2 separate regions of the Homo sapiens genome follow, and region 2 is linked to region 1. A link means that fine-mapping ties the variant in region 1 to the expression of a gene that starts in the linked region. Tissue or cell type: left ventricle. Region 1 holds a variant in brackets; the other region holds the start of a gene. All regions are shown on one strand. Distances are from middle to middle.

Region 1 (8,186 bases):
CAGGCAGTTCAGCCCTAGATAAACTTGACTCAACTGCCTGCCTGAACGAAGACTATTTTCTTTCTACATGACTAAACCTAGTAACTCAGGAGACAAGGAGGCCAAATTCTCCTCCCTTTAGTTTTCCCACTCAGGATTACATTGGGCCTGGTCTCAGGAACAATCCAGGAGTTTCTGGAAAAGCCATGTTATCTTCAAACTAGAATTTTCCAATAGCTACAGGAGGAAACACAGGAAATGAAAGCTCACATCTGCAATCTGTGTAATTCCCTTGCCTTGGGTGGTCCACAGGAGCAGCCCACAGTGCAGTGGAGGAGGAGGGGAGAACAGAAGCCCTGCTTGGGAGAGACCATCTGGCTCTATCAATGAGCCTCAGCCAGCGTCAGATCCCTTCTAAGGAGGCCTGGGAGGAGGCCGGCGGAGGACCCTCACTTCCTTGCTGGAGTCTCACTTAGCCCACATGCTCCTGCTTTAAACCTGATTAGATAGACCAGCTTCTCAAAAAGGGAGGGCTCCAGAGGGTTTGTTTTTTTTTTTTTTTTAATTCTCAGATCTTCCCAAGTCTGCTCTCCTAAGTATGAGAAACAAAGGGAATTGCCTAGAACCAGGACTATATCTAAAGGGATTTACAGGACAGAGGTAGCTGTACTTCTTCTAAGTTACCACTTTATACTAAAGAAAATCAATGGTAGTTAACTACACAATACTTGACTAGAAGTTATCCAAACTCCACTCCTCTTCTTTATCTCTAAAGAGAGGTTTTTCTCAGTACAAATAAGTTTTTAGTACAGGGGTTCTCAACGCTGGCCGCATAGAGCCACTGGGATTGTGATTTGACTGGTCTTTGGTGAAGCCTGGCAGCAGTCATTCTTAAAGTTTCCCTTGGTTCCAACGTGCAGCCGAGGTTGAGAACTGCTGGCTTGGTGTCTACCCTCTACCAAGCAATTTTGCTCTGCATCTCAATCTTCACAGCAACACGGGAAGGTATTTTTACTACTTTACAAATAAATAAATACAGGAGCAAAGAAGATACAAATCGATTCTCTCAGATTTGAATCCGGATCTGATTCAAAAAATAATAAGAATAAAGCCTGAGCTGCTACCCTCGGCAAAGCTCCCGTAGCAGCCGCTGAGTGAGCCTCCTGCCCAGCTCTACTTACCTCCCAGGAGCCCCAATCAGACAAGCGGGGGTGGGGGGACTCAAGTCCACTAAGCAGATTGATCAACTCAGATCCACAGCCAAAATATCATACTTCCACCGTGATTACATGCTCACCAGTCGCCCCTCCCACTCGATCTTTCTGAGCTTTATATGGTTGGGAATCCTGCCTTCGCTGAAAAGCCTGCTTAGGTAGCATTTTCATGAACCAGTAATACCCACCACTTTATCCCCTATAGCGTTTCCCGCCACAGCTCCGCTCCAGCTGATATCCCTTTATATTTCCTCCCCATTTCCCTTGTTACAGAGCAATAGCACCACCTGACCCCCGTTACAGAGCAATAGCACCACCTGACCCCCTCAAATGCAGCTGCTCTCTTTCAGCTGTCCAGGAGGCAGGCATCCTCTCCCACAGCTACTGAGGAAGTGGTTAACTTCAGTGTAGCTCGGCTCAACTCAGACAAGCCAGGGGTAGCCAACCGGTACTATTCAGAGTTGTGCATAATGCCAGGAGTACCTTGCCCCCAGCAATAACTGAATTATCTCGATTCAGTGGACTTTCTAAAATGTACCCTCCCTCAATATTGAAAATCCTCTTCAGGACCAGGGTAGAAAGTGGCTCCCAATACAGCAATGCTGACCTGCTGATCTTTGTTCTGGAATTTAACATGGTCTGTAAGGACCTTGGACTTTTTGAAATCATTTTTTTTATATCGCTGGAATACAGGTTCCTTTTCTTTTCTGGTCACAAAGCAAAGAAGTATAGAAAGAATTACCAAAAGTAAAAGTAAAAAAATAAAAAATAAAAAAAAGAATTACCAGGGACCCAGTCCCATGGGACTCAGTGTCAATGGCATATTTCCTGAGCTTGACATGGGCAATGAGAACTTATTTCTCCCAATCTTGATTCAGCTCCCTAATAATTAGGCTGGTATTCTTTAAGGCATATTGGTTTTAAGGTAGACACACCTGACAGCAATAACTTAAGCATAATCTGAGCATGCTCCTGCAGGGCAGATGCACCTCAATGTGTGTTCTGAGCTCGGGAATCCGGGAGTGGTCAACGCGGAGATTGGTTCCTTGTCTATGAGGAACATCTGAGCATCTCCCACCGCACCTTCCACCCTCCGCCCCCATCCCATGGAACATGGGCCATACTGGGGATGGAGGTCCTTTGTTTTGGGTTTAATGAAGGTTGCCAGATGGAGGTTGTTAGGGGAGGGTGTTAAGTGAAAATGTTGTATAAACTGATGCTTTTTGCAAGTAGTTGCACTTCTCCTGTATAGCCCACTGCTGCTGGACCCTGTCCCCCTGCATGTGAACCCGCAGTAAAATCCCATGTCTCATTTGCTGGCTCTGGGGCTCTTCAGCCTCTTGAATCTTGTGCCAGAGGTTTTCGAACCCTGAATCCCTATAAGATTAATAGGGGTTGGGCATAACACTATTTAAGACCAAAAATTTAGAGACTGGCAAATTGGGACTGAATCCCAATTCCAAGGCTATTCTTTGGCCTTGATATTCTTCACCAATATGGGTTTGGGAATTCTAATGTGGACCCTCGATATCACACCCCTCCTCTGTCTGTTTGGGCTCATAAATATAATGGCCCAACCAAGGAAGTAAAAACTAAGGTGGATTACAGGTCTTTGTTAGGGAGATCTGAACCCTGTTTGTCTAAAAACGGTACCAAGTTATTTCAGTACATGTTGAAGGTATAAAGAGGAGATTCCAACATTTTCTATAAATTACTTTTCTAAAGAGCCTTTCAGCTCTACTTGCCCTGACTTAAAAGTATTTTTCATTCATCTTCCACCCACACTCAGACCAGAAACTGATAGCAGTTAGCCTTATCTGTCACAAGCCTAAGCAACTGGTGGCCGATCACCCTATCTCGTGCTATTACCTAGGCCGTTAGGAAGCTAAAATTAAAACCTGGTGTCATTAACATACCAGACCAAATACAGAGAAAGCCACAGAAAGTCAAGTTCAGATCCTCTTACAAGTTTCTATTTTAAAAAATAAAATACAGCAAGCTTCAGTGAGAGACCTTAAGATGGGTCACTAGACATCACAGTGAACATGATTTTGTCGTACTATTAATATTTCTCAGCAAATGGCTTTGGGAAGCACGGTGGGAACTCTGATTCCTGTAGGTAGCCACTAAATCATTGCCCTGACTTTATAATTCTGCAGCAATGTCTTCATATTTTGTGAAGTCTAGAACCCTTCGCAGCGGGAAACTTGCACACTTATAGCCGAATTGCATAGAGTCTATCTAAAGTTAGTTTAAAGACTCACAGGTTACTTTGCCACCAGAAATGTTCATGTATTGGATTTAGGGGTGGGCTCAATTTTCACTTAACTATTTAATTAAACAGTTACTTT[G/GC]TGACCTCTAGTTAGCTGACGTCTGTTCTGTGCCAGGCACTGGGCAAAGTGTTTGGCTTATGTTATCTCTAATGTGCACAAATCTGAAAGGCAAGTCAAATCGCCAATCCCCATTTACAGTTGAGGAATCTGAGGCTCAGGGAAGTCAAATATCTTGCTCAAGTTCACATAGCTGGCAGGTGACAAAGCCAGGATTTGAATCAGGCATGCTGACTCACAACCGTTGCCACTGTGAAGGCTGTTCCTAATCTATGCGATGTCCTAGTCACCACCTCTACCCCGACACCGTGGCCATGCCCTTCTCTCATCACTTGCCCTTGTGGTGGCTTTACTGCTACCAACCAGAAGAGGCCTTCGTAGGTAACTGACTCTGTTTTACAACAGTCTAAAAAAGAATTGGAAGAATTTATGCCAAAACTAAAATCGTTGCTTGGGGCAAACTCTAATATTCAAGTAGGCAATGTTAAACCAGCCCTATTAACTCTTATGCTCTTATCCCTCTGCGGCATATTTACATAAATTCCCCCAGACGGCACTGTCTAAATACATTGGTCTCCATTTCAGACGCTGCCTGGAGTCACTAAGTTTCTCCTAAGATTGGGGAAGGCAACTGGTGATCACTTTCCTTAGCTTTTCCAGGCTTCAATCATGTTTGCCATGGGCTGTGGATCATGAGGAAAAGTTTCTCTTCTAGAAATCCTCCAGCTAATAAACGAAGAGAGGGCAATAAAATTAAAATATTATCATTTCACAAACCTCTATGGAAGTAAGTCTAGGCAAGGGTCATCCATGGCTGCTACCTCACAGAAAGAGAGACAGCTGGTCATTGTGTGCCTCCTCCTAGATATGAAATGCTACTTAGGAAGGATTCTTGCCGAAAGCATTGTATCTGGATCAAATCAAACCAATTCTAGATTCACCTAACAATTGTGAAATTGCCAGAATCAAAATGGAGTTGGCACTGTTAAAAATCAAAACAAACCCTGACAAATAGGCCTGTGGAAGACCATGAAGACAGGTTCTCATGCTTGTATGCCTAATAACAAAACTATCACAAAAGCCTCAAAAACCACAATCTTGCACAATGGCCACTGCAACCTTACACAAAAAATACTTCTACAAGGATATCTGCCCAGCAACTGCCTGTTCAACTGCATTGGGATCACCCTTGTTATTAATCTTTATGGTCAAGTATAATCATTTCCAAATAATTATGTAATCCTCCTCATTTTTTCCTTTAAAAACCTTTGTCTTTCTTTACCTCCCTGAATCCATGCATAGTTTACTATGGCAGGCATATTCCCATTGCAATGATCTATACCCAAATAAATATTTTATTTTAGAAAGCATTTCTCTGTCATTCAGGTTGACAATATAAGAGGAAATCTCTTTGCAGTGATTGTGTAGAAGATATGGAGACATTCTCTGTATTGGCATTTTTCTATGTCCGCCCTTGATGAAAGCAAAGGACGGAACATTAAAGGGCAACTGAGTAAAGACTTTCCATAGCAGTGTTAGTTAATGAGATCCATCCAGGATATAGCTTTCCGGTAATCAATTTGATTCCAGAATAGCATAAGAGACCTAGAAGAGTACACAGTCAGATACCAAAATTTACCTAGAAAAATCTTAGACTGTTGTCCAAGCGTGGTGGCTCATGCCTGTAATGCCAGCAATTTGGGAGGCTGAGGCAGGCAGATGATGAAGTCAAGAGATTGAGACCATCCTGGCCAACATGGTGAAACCTCGTCTCTACTAATAATATAAAAAATTAGCTGGCCGTGGTGGTGCACGCCTATAGTCCCAGCTACTTGGGAGGCTGAGGCAGGAGGATCGCTTGAACCCGGGAGGCAGAGGTTGCAGTGAGCTGAGATTGTGCCACTGCACTCCAGCCTGACCACAGAGCGAGACTTTGTCTCAAAAAACAAAAACAAAAACAAAAAGAAATCTTACACTGTTTTCAGAAATCACACTTTTAGCAATGATATCAATATTAATTATTCTAAAATATATATAGTAAGGCAAGTAAGTAATTATGTTAATATTGTCTGCAACCAAGATTTTAGGTAGAAGAGAGAAGATAGATAAATATAAAATCAAAGGAGCTAAATTTTAAAAAACGCTGTGATACTAAATTCAAGTTCAAAATATTAGTATGAACTCACGATGCATTTTCTTTAAAGTAGTGTTTTCAATTCTGTCCACTGAAAAAAGCTGGGAACAATGACCAATTCTTAAGCAATGGGCAGCCCTAAAGCCAGCTTATAATTTTTTTTTTTTTTTTTTTTGAGACAGAGTTTCACTCTTGTTGCCCAGGCTGGGGGGTGCAGTGGCACAATCTCAGCTCACCACAACCTCCGCCTCCCAGGTTCAAGTGATTCTCCTGCCTCAGCCTCCCAAGTAGCTGGGATTACAGACATGTGCCACCACACCCAGCTAATTTTTGTATTTTTAGTAAAGACGGGGTTTCACCATGTTGGTCAGGCTAGTCTCAAACTCCTGACCTAGTGATCCGCCTGCCTTAGCCTCCCAAAATGCTGGGCCTGGCCCTATAATTTTGAAAAATCATTGGAAAATGATATTTAAAGGAATCAAGCCTCCTTGGAGAAATTGCTGACCATAGTTCTGGGGCAGGAAAAGTACATGTGCCTAGCACATTTGACATACCAGACACCAAGGAATTTACTAAAAACTGTGATTGTTTCGAAGCATTTAGAAGCCAAAATTAAGTGGCTATCACTTGGAAAGTATGGAAAAATTTGAGAACAAGTAAGAACAATGACTTTGATGAATTTAAACAAATCAAATGTGTTAAAATCCATGAGATCATAATTACACTTGACAGCAAATACTCACTGACCACCTTTAGTGGATGCCAGGGAACCACATTATAAACATGAAAATACGGGGCAGGAATCAAGGGTTTTGCCTGTCCTTGCTGTATAAACAGTGTATCAGGGTAATTTTTCAAGGTAAAGTTTCTCTTTATGTAAGTCTCTCAAATAATAAATTAAGGAATGATAGAATTAAAATATTGCCATTTTGCAACCCCTACTGAAATAATGGATGTAAACAAAGACCATCAGCAGCTGCTGCATCACAGAGACAACTGGTCCGTATGCGTCTCCTAAGAGAAGTATGCGATACTTCTAATGGAGGATTCTTGGCAAATAAGTTGGACTTGAATCAGCTCAAACTTCCAATTCTAGAGTCTAGCATTTATAAGAAACGCTGGTCAGAAAAAAACGGTTGCAGATGAAATGCACTTCAGGGTTGCAATCAGCAAAATACCAAATGTGAGAAACTGCAGGACAATGCCTCTGCTTCTTCCATATATAAACTGAAAAACAAAGGAGAGAAGAAACCTGTACATTAAAAAAAAAATTCAAAAGAATGTTGAAACAAACCAACTCTCAAAAAATAAAAAAGGAAAAAAATAATACAATTAGAGAAATTTGAATGTCATCTATTTTTAAGTATGATAATGGTTATGTGGTTTTAGTTTTTAAGAAGAGTTCTTATCATTTACCAATACATATGGACATCGTTATGGACAAAATGGTTTGCTGCCTTGGATCTGCCTCAAAAGAATCCATTTGGGTTGAACGGGGTGGCTAGTGTGGTGTGGGGAAGCAGAGATAAAATAAGACTGGGCATGAGCTGATTCTTCCCTACGCTGGGTGATGGCATACGGGGGTTCATTAACTCATTACATTATTCTCTCTACTTTTGCTTATGTTTTAAATTTTCTATTAAAAATATCAAAGTGTGAAAAATCACACACACACACACACAAACACACATCCTGCTCTTGTTTTTGAACCGAGGGTCTGGGTCAATAATTGGGTGAATGGTGATTTTTATAAAATAACAAAGTAATTTACCTCCTTAAGGATAAAAATGAACATGTTCTCACTGGAAAGCTGCCCAAGAAGAGACTACTCAACCATAGTACCATGTGCTGAATTTTCTTTATTTCACATTCTTGATCTGGCCTTACAGAAAATTTGAGTGAACATTTCTGAATTAGAAGGAAAAATTTGGAAGTCGAAGTACTAAAATGAGTATTGAAGCATGAGAACTGTTCTACCTTGTCAGCATCTGAATAGTGTAAAATCGCTCCTCTGAGCTGGGATTCACGTCCAGGTGGGTGCAAAGTGAAACAGAAATAGCACATGCAGGCACAAAGCCAGTGGCCTGGGAGTGAGGGGGGATGGAGGGAAAATGGGAAGATTGTCCACTTGAGACTAAGCCTCCAGAATCTGCAGGAATTTTGGGGATCATTGCAGCATAATTTAAAGTTCTAGAGAGTTTTGTCTGAATCTCCATTGGTCAGGGAAATCTGAGCTGATGACAAGGTTACAAACAATTATACCACATGCCATTTGTAAATTATCATTCCAGACGATGTACTAAGCAGTTTACATTAATTGCCTCGTTGAACCTTTATAACTCTCTTGCCCCAACAACCATGACACAGATATTATCATCACATTTTGACAGAAAAGAAGAAGGTCCAGGGAAATTGAGTAACTTATTCAAGGTCACACAGCTGGTGAGTGATGTAGCTTGTCCTCTAACGTAGGGCAGCCTGCCTGCAAAACTCTTTCCCCACTGTCTGCGTTTCACTTGCCATGGAGCA
Region 2 (8,186 bases), 43 kb after region 1:
AATCAATTGTACAACACTGGCCCTATTTCTCCCTTTACTCTTCTGAGATTCCAGGAGTGAGGAGAGAAATCAATGTTACAACAATGAGTCATTATTTATAGCCCAGTTCCTGAGCTGCCTCATGAGGCAGTGAACTCCTTGACACTGAGACAATCAAGAAGAATAAAACCTCCAGATGAGATGGGCTGTGGGTAGTGAGGAATAACATTAATATGCATCAATGCAGGGGAGAACTGAGTCATCGCTAAGACACCTCCCTACTCTGTGATTCAGTTGTGAGTCGCGACAGAACACAGACCATGTGACTTGGGGAAACACTGAGCAGTGCTTCCTTTATTTCTGTAGCTGCAAATAGGGACATATAACTACCCTGGTCGCATACGCTCAGACTGAAGCTGTGGCTGAAAGACACTTTATGGATGGCATTGGCTATCAGGATCCTCATATTACTTAGCAGAACATAGGGCTGTGCTTTACCCCTAGCTGAAGAATACATGCATTTTGAGATAATGTCACCTCAAAACAGTTTTGGAAATAGGCCAGGCTCCAATCAATAAATAGATGAAATTGTACAGGGAAAATTGTCTTGAAAAGCTGTCAGACTCTATAGAAAGTTTCATTGTTATACTTCACATTTTAAAAAATTATTATGCTATTTCAAATACAGATTTTGAACTATTTAACACCCACAAAACTTTCTAATATTGGTGGAAGCAAACTGATCAAGCCATCCTAACAGCTTTTCCAACTGGCTTGTTTTAGGTATAACCATGGAAAAAGGCTGTGTCTATACTGAGTTCCGGGAAGAATGTTCAAGTCAGAGTCAGCAGAAGTCAAGTGGGGCGCTGACCCTCTGGCTCTGCCCTCTCTAATCAGCCTTCCCCAACCCATTTAGAATTGGAATCTGAAGAATTCCCTTTCTGGCCCAGGATCAACAGATTTTGGTCCTGTCTACAAGCATTTTCATTTTCTTGCCCGAAAGCCTGTGCTTGGGCTTTTCTAGAGACTCAGCTCCCCCATCAATTGTCCAAAATGCCTAACTTCAGCTCCCAACTCTGTGGGTAAATAAGTCACCCACCCTCACTCTTTCTTCCTGGGCCACCCCTGGTGGAAAGAAGCCCACTGGGGCTGGGACACCTACCTCCCAGCACCTCGCAGTCGCTGTCCATGCTGTCATGCACACCTGCAAAGATGTTGGCCAGAGTGGACTTGCCCACCCCCTGCTCCCCTATGAGCACCACTCGGTAGTAGGTGTTCCCTGACTCAGAGGAGATGACTGAGTCTGTGGAGTCAGAGGACCAGCTTCGGCGGCAGTGGTCCTCAGGGGTAGCAGAATGGCGGTTGCGGTGGCTGTACTGGTGGGGCTCTTTCTGGACCATCAGATGCCTGCCATCAGCTGGGATGCTCCAGCGCTGCTGCTGTGGCTGCATGCCCACAGTGCCCTGGCGCATGGTGACATTATTCAGAGTCATCGTTGAGTCCTGGGGAGCAAAGCAGCCAAGATGGCAGCATTAGTAAGCATGAGTGAGAGCTCCGCTCAAATACATGGTCAGTCATCAGTAATATTTTATTAGATGAGATGAGAAGCAAGTATCCCTAACATAAAGACCACCAATTAAACAGTCCCCCAAACCCCAACAAGACAGGCTTTCAACTGGACACACACATGCTGCCCACACTGTCAGTAACCAGCTCCTCAGGCAGACTATCATTTGCATGGGAAAACAAATACGGTTAACATCACCCACTGCCCATGGGCTTCCCCCTTCCTCAAAGCAGACTTGGATGAAAGAAGAGCTGCACTCAGAGCTGGCACAAAGGCAGCTGGAAAGAACCAGCAGACTCCAAAGATGGCTTGAAAAGCAACAAGTTAATGTTGCTGGGGACCAGCTGGTCAGGTTAGCTGCTCTTGTCTAAACTTGGCTCTTAATTGCACCAGTGTCCAGCAGGTTTTGTGCCTCAGTGGGAAACACGTGGCAATGACATCACCCTCCCCTCCCCTGCCCACTGCAACCCTGGCTGGACTGGACAGGCACTTATTGGAACTTCCATGTTTAGTAAAGTTGCCTTGATGCTCTCCAGCTGCCTGGAGAGCATCCACCTGCCATTATTGGGGGTAGGGGGGAAATTTTCTGTTTAAAGTTTATGCCTCAGCTGTGCCCTCTTACCCACAGATACCACTTTTAAAACATCCCGGCTCCAAACCTAGACACCCTGGCAGAGAAATGACCTGCTCATGTTCAGACCTATGAAATTTGCAGAGAAAGTGCCTCATTCTTAAAAAACCACATCCATTCTCAAGAGTTCTTTAATTCAACTCAGATTCCTTTTTTGAGTCAGGGTCTTGCTCTGTCACCCAGGCTGGAGTGCAGTGGCACGATCATAGCTCACTGTAGCTAGCCTCCAACTGCCAGGCTCAAGAGATCCTCCACTTCAGCCTCCCAAGTAGCTGGGACTACAGACCTGCACTACCACGTCCACTAGTTTTTTTATTTTTATTTTTATTTTTTGGTAGAGACAGTGGCCTCACTATGTTGCCCAGGCTGGTCTCGAACTCCTGGGGTCAAGTGATCCTCCTGCCTCGGCTTCCGAAAGTGCTGAGATCACAGGCCTGAGCCACCATTCTCAGATCCCCTTCTTGAAGCAAATCAGAAGGCTGAAGACTCCCCTAAATGATATTCAACAACTTCTCTACAACTTTCCCTTTGCAGACTGCCTCCCCTAGCCGGGAGGTCTGTTTTTCCGGCTACTGGTGATAAAGTATAAGTACTTACGTTGCAATCAGCAAGATGCACAAACACTCCTCTCCCACCCTCACCCCCACACTCCGTACCCCAACATCTCGCCACTAACCAGGACGACCAGCCGGTTTTTTAGTCTCAAAAGCAGCACCTCAGTTGGCAGACTTACATTCAAACAACAAATACATAAAGCATCATTAAGGGCTGCCCTCTCTGACCACTCGATCTGTAGAGGGAGGTGACCCTTCTACCGAATTGAACTAAGGAACCTGCTGATGAGAAGCGACATCCTTTGCACTTGAAGCTCTGACCCCTACCAGAAAATCCCAGTGCTGAGCGCACGTTCCAGGGGTTCTTTTCTCAACTTCGAAAGTTCTGCGGGCTGGGAAACTCCCACTCTCTCCCTTCTCCGTCTCGGGCCGTCCCCCTTACTTGGCTCGGCCGGATCGGCGTCGGGGCGTCAGCGTATCGCGTGGGTCCGCGCTGGGATACCCGGGCCAACGAGCGGGGAGTGCTGCGCTGTGCCCGCCGTCCTTGCCCGCCGCCTGCAGCCGCCGCGGCCGGGCGGTTTATAACCAGCCCAGCCGACCCGCCGCGGGGCTTTTCCGTGACGTCAGCGCCCCCGCCGGGAGGGGGCGGCTCTGCAGCAAACTCGGAGTTGCAGCCACTTGGCTAAATCAGTTACTCGCAGTCATGTGACCCCTTCTCTCTCCATTTAAAAAATAATGACAGTTCAATCCTGGGCCTCCTTTATTTTGTTTTATTTTCTTTTTACCAGATGAACACAGGAAAATGGAAAAATACACTAAGTGACACTTAATCGTCCTTCCCAGCAAAGCACTTGCGAGCTGTCGGGATAAAGGATGGAAGGGAGAGGCAGGTTTGAGTTGAGAACTCAGTTTTGCCAAGAAAACAGAGATCAACCTGGAATGCGCAGAGACTTTAGCCTCCAGGATGAGACTGCAGCCACCTTGAATAGCCAAGGCTTGTTTTAACCACATCTTCTGCAACGAAGACAGCCTTGTCACCTTCTTCTGGATAGGGGGAAGCAGATGGAGCCCCACAAGGCTTTGTTTCCCTTCTCTGGCAAGGACCCAGAGAGAAGGGGCCAGAAAGAGGTGAGGAAAGAGGACAAGACCTTGAAAAGGGCAGTTTGGAAAAACAATTTAATTGAGGATCCAAGCAGATTGTGCTAAATATTGCTGGCCCTCCTGCTCTGGGCCAGAATGCTGAGGCTCCTCAATCAGGGAATTTAATCAGCATCCCAATCAGCAGCATCTCTGTACCAGGCTCCCTGGCAAGGCTACGCCTTGGGCATGAGCCAATACAGCCTGGCCATGGGGAGGAGCACTGAGACCAACACCCCTGTAAGAGACTCCTGTGAACAAAGGGCACAGGATAATAACTACTACTACCATTTATTAAGTACCTCTGAGGACCTCTGCTTAGTAGGTACTGTTAGGCCTCCTGGGACCTTAATCCTTACTATACTTCTGCAAGGTGGCTCTATTTCTACCCTCATTGTATGGAGGAGGAAGATAACATAGGGCCAGAGAATTTGCCCAAGGTCACACCGCTGGTATAAGTGGCAGGGTCAGGACTCAAAGCCTGGTTTTCCTGAGTCTCTGCACTGCACCACCAAGTGAAGGATTTCAATGACCTCTTTCTGGGGACATGGGTATTTCCCAGATGCTGTGTTTAGAGATGATGCTGGCCTCTCCAACATATCTGCTTTTCCAGCCAGCTTCAACTCTGGGTTGGCTGGTGGCTCCGGGAAGCAGCCAAAGGCACCAGCATCTATTGAAGCAGCTGGACTCTGCTGTGATTAGAGTCAATTCACAGTTATCCTGCAGGCATTTATCTGCTTTGAGAATTAGCTACATGACCAGCTGCTGAGACCTGCCAGGTCCCAAGCTAGCAAAGGTGGAATCCATAGAGTAATGAAAACTTAGAATTCCTTTAGTCTCAGGTGTTGTGGCCCCAATCTCCTACTTATCTTATACATAAGAAACCTGAGACCCAGAGAGGAGATGACCGCTTAGGACATGACAGAACTGGAACTACAACCTGGGGATCATAATTCTCTGGATGCCCTTTGCTTCTGTCAAGTTTTTCTTCTGGGTTTCGCTGACAGGAAGTGGCTACAGATGTGGGGAAAGGAAAAGGAGAGGAGATGGGGGGTGGGGGAGATCATCTCCAAGAGTATATCACTGACTCCATTCTAAAACACATGTAATTGATGAATAATCCATGTTTCAAAATGATCCATGCTTTTTCCATACTGACACTCCTACTCTGTCAACTGGTCTCAACAGAAACATCATAGGAGTAAAAACTAAGAAGAAATCAGTTTATAAGCATATGATATAGTTCCTCAGTTCTACTTTTGCCGATTGATAAGAATCTAATACTTCACATTTATAAAAACCTAATTCTGGCCAGGCACAGTGGCTCACGCCTGTAATCCTAGCACTTTGGGAGGCTGAGGTGGGTGGATCACGAGGTCAGGAGTTCAAGACCAGCCTGGCCAACGTAATGAAACCCTGTCTCTACTAAAAATACAAAAAAATAGCCGGGCATGGTGGTGGATGCCTGTAATCCCAGCTACTCAGGAGGCTGAGGCGGGAGAATCGCTTGAACCTGGGAGGCAGAGGTTGCAGTGAGCCGAGATCGTGCCATTGCACTCCAGCCTGGGCGACACAGCAAGACTCCATCTCAAAACAAACAAACAAAACAAACAAAAAAAAAACTAATTCCATACCTAGGCAATATCTACTATGAACTATTTGTCATTGGTATATGTGAAACATACAAAAGAAAATGAACTCCAGGGACTGGGGAAAGGGAAGGGGCACACAGCAATGTTGTGTTTGGATAATAGAACAATTTTTAAATTTTTTAAATTGTCTGTCTCACAAGAAGCCACATGAACACAAACAAGAACACTACTTAAGAAGAGTCTTGACTAAAAGTTAAGTTTGAGTAATTATTTAGAGAAAAATCATAGTTATACTTCACAAAAAGCACATCTGAGCGCCAAATCTCATCTAGCCAAGTCTCAGATCCCTCGACCAGGATTCCAGCTCACTGGGATCATCTTGAGGGTGTGGAGCTGGAGAGAAAAGGTAGAATCAGGGCATTTGGGTAAGTGGCAAGTTTTGAAGAGGAAAAATTGGCAGAAAGTTGTCTTTTGTTCTATGAATTATTCTCTCCATATTCTTTCTGCCAGCATTTGAAGGCTTCCTCAGTTTCTAGCTACAATGAGTAGCTCAAGAGTATAGCAAAGAGGCAGAATTCAAAGCAACAAAAATAACTCACATTTACTTACCAAAATGCATGCCTATCTCAGCTAATCCGCATCACCCCTACAGTTACCCATATTCTATGGGGAAAGGTGCTGAGGAATGAGGGTTAAATAACCAGCCCAGGGTCACAGGGTGGTTAGGTGGCAGATGTGTACTCTCTGGGGCCACAGTCTTAACTGCTGTTCTATTTAGAGTAGGGGATATACGTCAGTCCTCATTCCCATACTAGCCCCACCTTGGCCTACCACCTTCCTAAAACCCTCAAAGGAGAAGTTTTTGTCTGATTGGCCAAAGCCCATGACCTTCACTGGGCCACCTGTTCCTAGTGGGCCGAGTTACTCTACTTAAAGGCATGAGCCATCCTTTCCTCTCTCTTTTCTCCACATCCCTGCCCTAGGGCAGAAGGTGAAGTTGGGGTCTGTTTGGGGACTCTGCCTACTACTCTGCCACTGTCACTGTCACTTAGCATGTAGACTTGAGCAACCAGTTCCCATGATTTCAAATAGGATGAGAAAGGAAGGAAAGACGTAGGGAAAGAATAGGACCTTTGACCAGGGTTGTAAATAAGGGCATCTGGGACTTGCACAGACATTAAGATAATATTACTTTGAATACCATGTCTTGAAAACTCTAAGAGAGGAGAGATGATGGGTAGGCTCAGGATCTGTACATGCCTGGGTCCATTATACTATTCTAAAAGCTGTAATTCTATTCCAAAAGCAACAGAATCTAAAAGCAACAGAATCATCTATACTATAGACTTACTACAACCAAGGTCATGCTTGCCCAAGCCATCAAGTAAATGCTACTCAGTGGTAAAGGGGACACCATGCAAACGTTCTCCCTTTCCCAACAAGGAGGTAGATTATAGACTAAACACTGAGTAAGAAATAAATTAAATGGGTTTTTTCCTATTATTTTTTAAATGTTTCTTTTTTTCTTTCTTTCTTTCTTTTTGTATGTTTTTTGAGAGACAGAATCTTGCTATGTTGCCCAGGCTGGCCTCACCACTCCCAGGCTCAAGTGATCCTCCAGCTTCAGCCTCCTGAGTTACTGGGACTATAGGTGCTGGGCTCTGTTTTGCATTTTAATGCCTTTAGGCAAAGCATGCCGGCCAGTTTCCCACAATCCTTACTAATCCTTAATATATTCTACTCCAAGCAGTTTCATTTATACTATCTACCTGGCCCCTAAAGGCATTTGACTTTGGGATCTTTGCCTGGGCTGAAAGAAATGGTAGGGGATTTAACATCAGAAAAGGAGGTTCAAATCCAGGCCTTTCCTCTTATGCATGTGATGCTGGGGATGTCACCAAGCCCCAGAGGCCTTGGCTTCTGCTGTTCTGAGGACTAAAGAGCTATGGAATGTGGAAGTGCTTGTTAACCACGGAGCACTATGTCAATAAGAGTGATTATGATTATGACGCAGGAGCCAAGGATTGAAGCTTAGCCACCTGCCCTCGGTTTTGCTGCCTCTTAAGGCTCCAGCTAAATTAATCCAGCAGAATTCAAGACACATGGGGTGGAGGGAGGATGGGCGAGAAATATGCTCATATTAGATGTTACTAGGAAAATATCATTAGCAAGGAGGTTGTTGTAAACAAGAAGATGGAGGCCAAATACCCAGCACACATCATAGGTCTCCACCAGCCACAAAAACATTCAGGGGAGGAGCTGGGTGGGAAGCAATTTGCAAAGTGTCTGAGCACAAAAAGAACCACCCACCAACTTTGGGAAGTCTAAAGAAGGAAAGAATTACTATATGGAAAATCATTGCTTTAGAGAAGGGGGATAAAAAAGCCTTCAATCGCAAATTCAAGAGAGGCCTGATTACAAGAAAATAAAGACAGAAGAAAAGATGGCTAAGAATAACGTGTCAGCATCCAGAGGCCTGTGAGATCCAGATGGACAGCCCCTCCAGCTGCATCCTCCCCAGACCAGCCCCCAGCTTCTCATCAGACTCCTGCTGAGCAGATTGAATTTTCCATTGAAAAAATTCTTAGCTATCACCCCTCCTTCCCTCCATTGGCCCAGCCTGCTGCAGGCCTGGAGAGTGCCAGTGGCAGAGATAGCTAGAGCCCTTCCTTCTAAAAGCTTGCAGAGTAAGTGCAGAATGTATCTTAGTAGGCTGGGAGGAGCCT

Alleles and levels. Positions count from the first base shown, and alleles are read on the strand shown. Sizes are in standard deviations (SD) of each study's normalised expression.
With allele G in place of GC in region 1, the expression in left ventricle of the gene that starts at base 3,288 in region 2 is lower (small effect, 0.24 SD a copy in GTEx).

Evidence for each region. PIP is the estimated chance that this variant, and not a neighbour inherited with it, causes the effect.
Region 2: GEM starts here. The variant in region 1 is fine-mapped to the expression of GEM in left ventricle (GTEx, PIP above 0.99).

The regions. Positions count from the first base shown.
Region 1 is chr8:94,216,038-94,224,223 of GRCh38, forward strand. It overlaps a transcript of CDH17 not described here. Among named protein-coding and RNA genes, the nearest start is that of CDH17, 12 kb to the left of the region's middle. The variant G/GC (reference allele first, on the strand shown) is at 3,545.
Region 2 is chr8:94,259,032-94,267,217 of GRCh38, forward strand. GEM (GTP binding protein overexpressed in skeletal muscle) reads right to left here and starts at 3,288. Exons shown (of 5, transcript NM_005261.4): 1 at 3,059-3,288; 2 at 1,142-1,481. The coding sequence starts at 1,472. RefSeq lists silencers at 1,245-1,388, 2,530-2,599.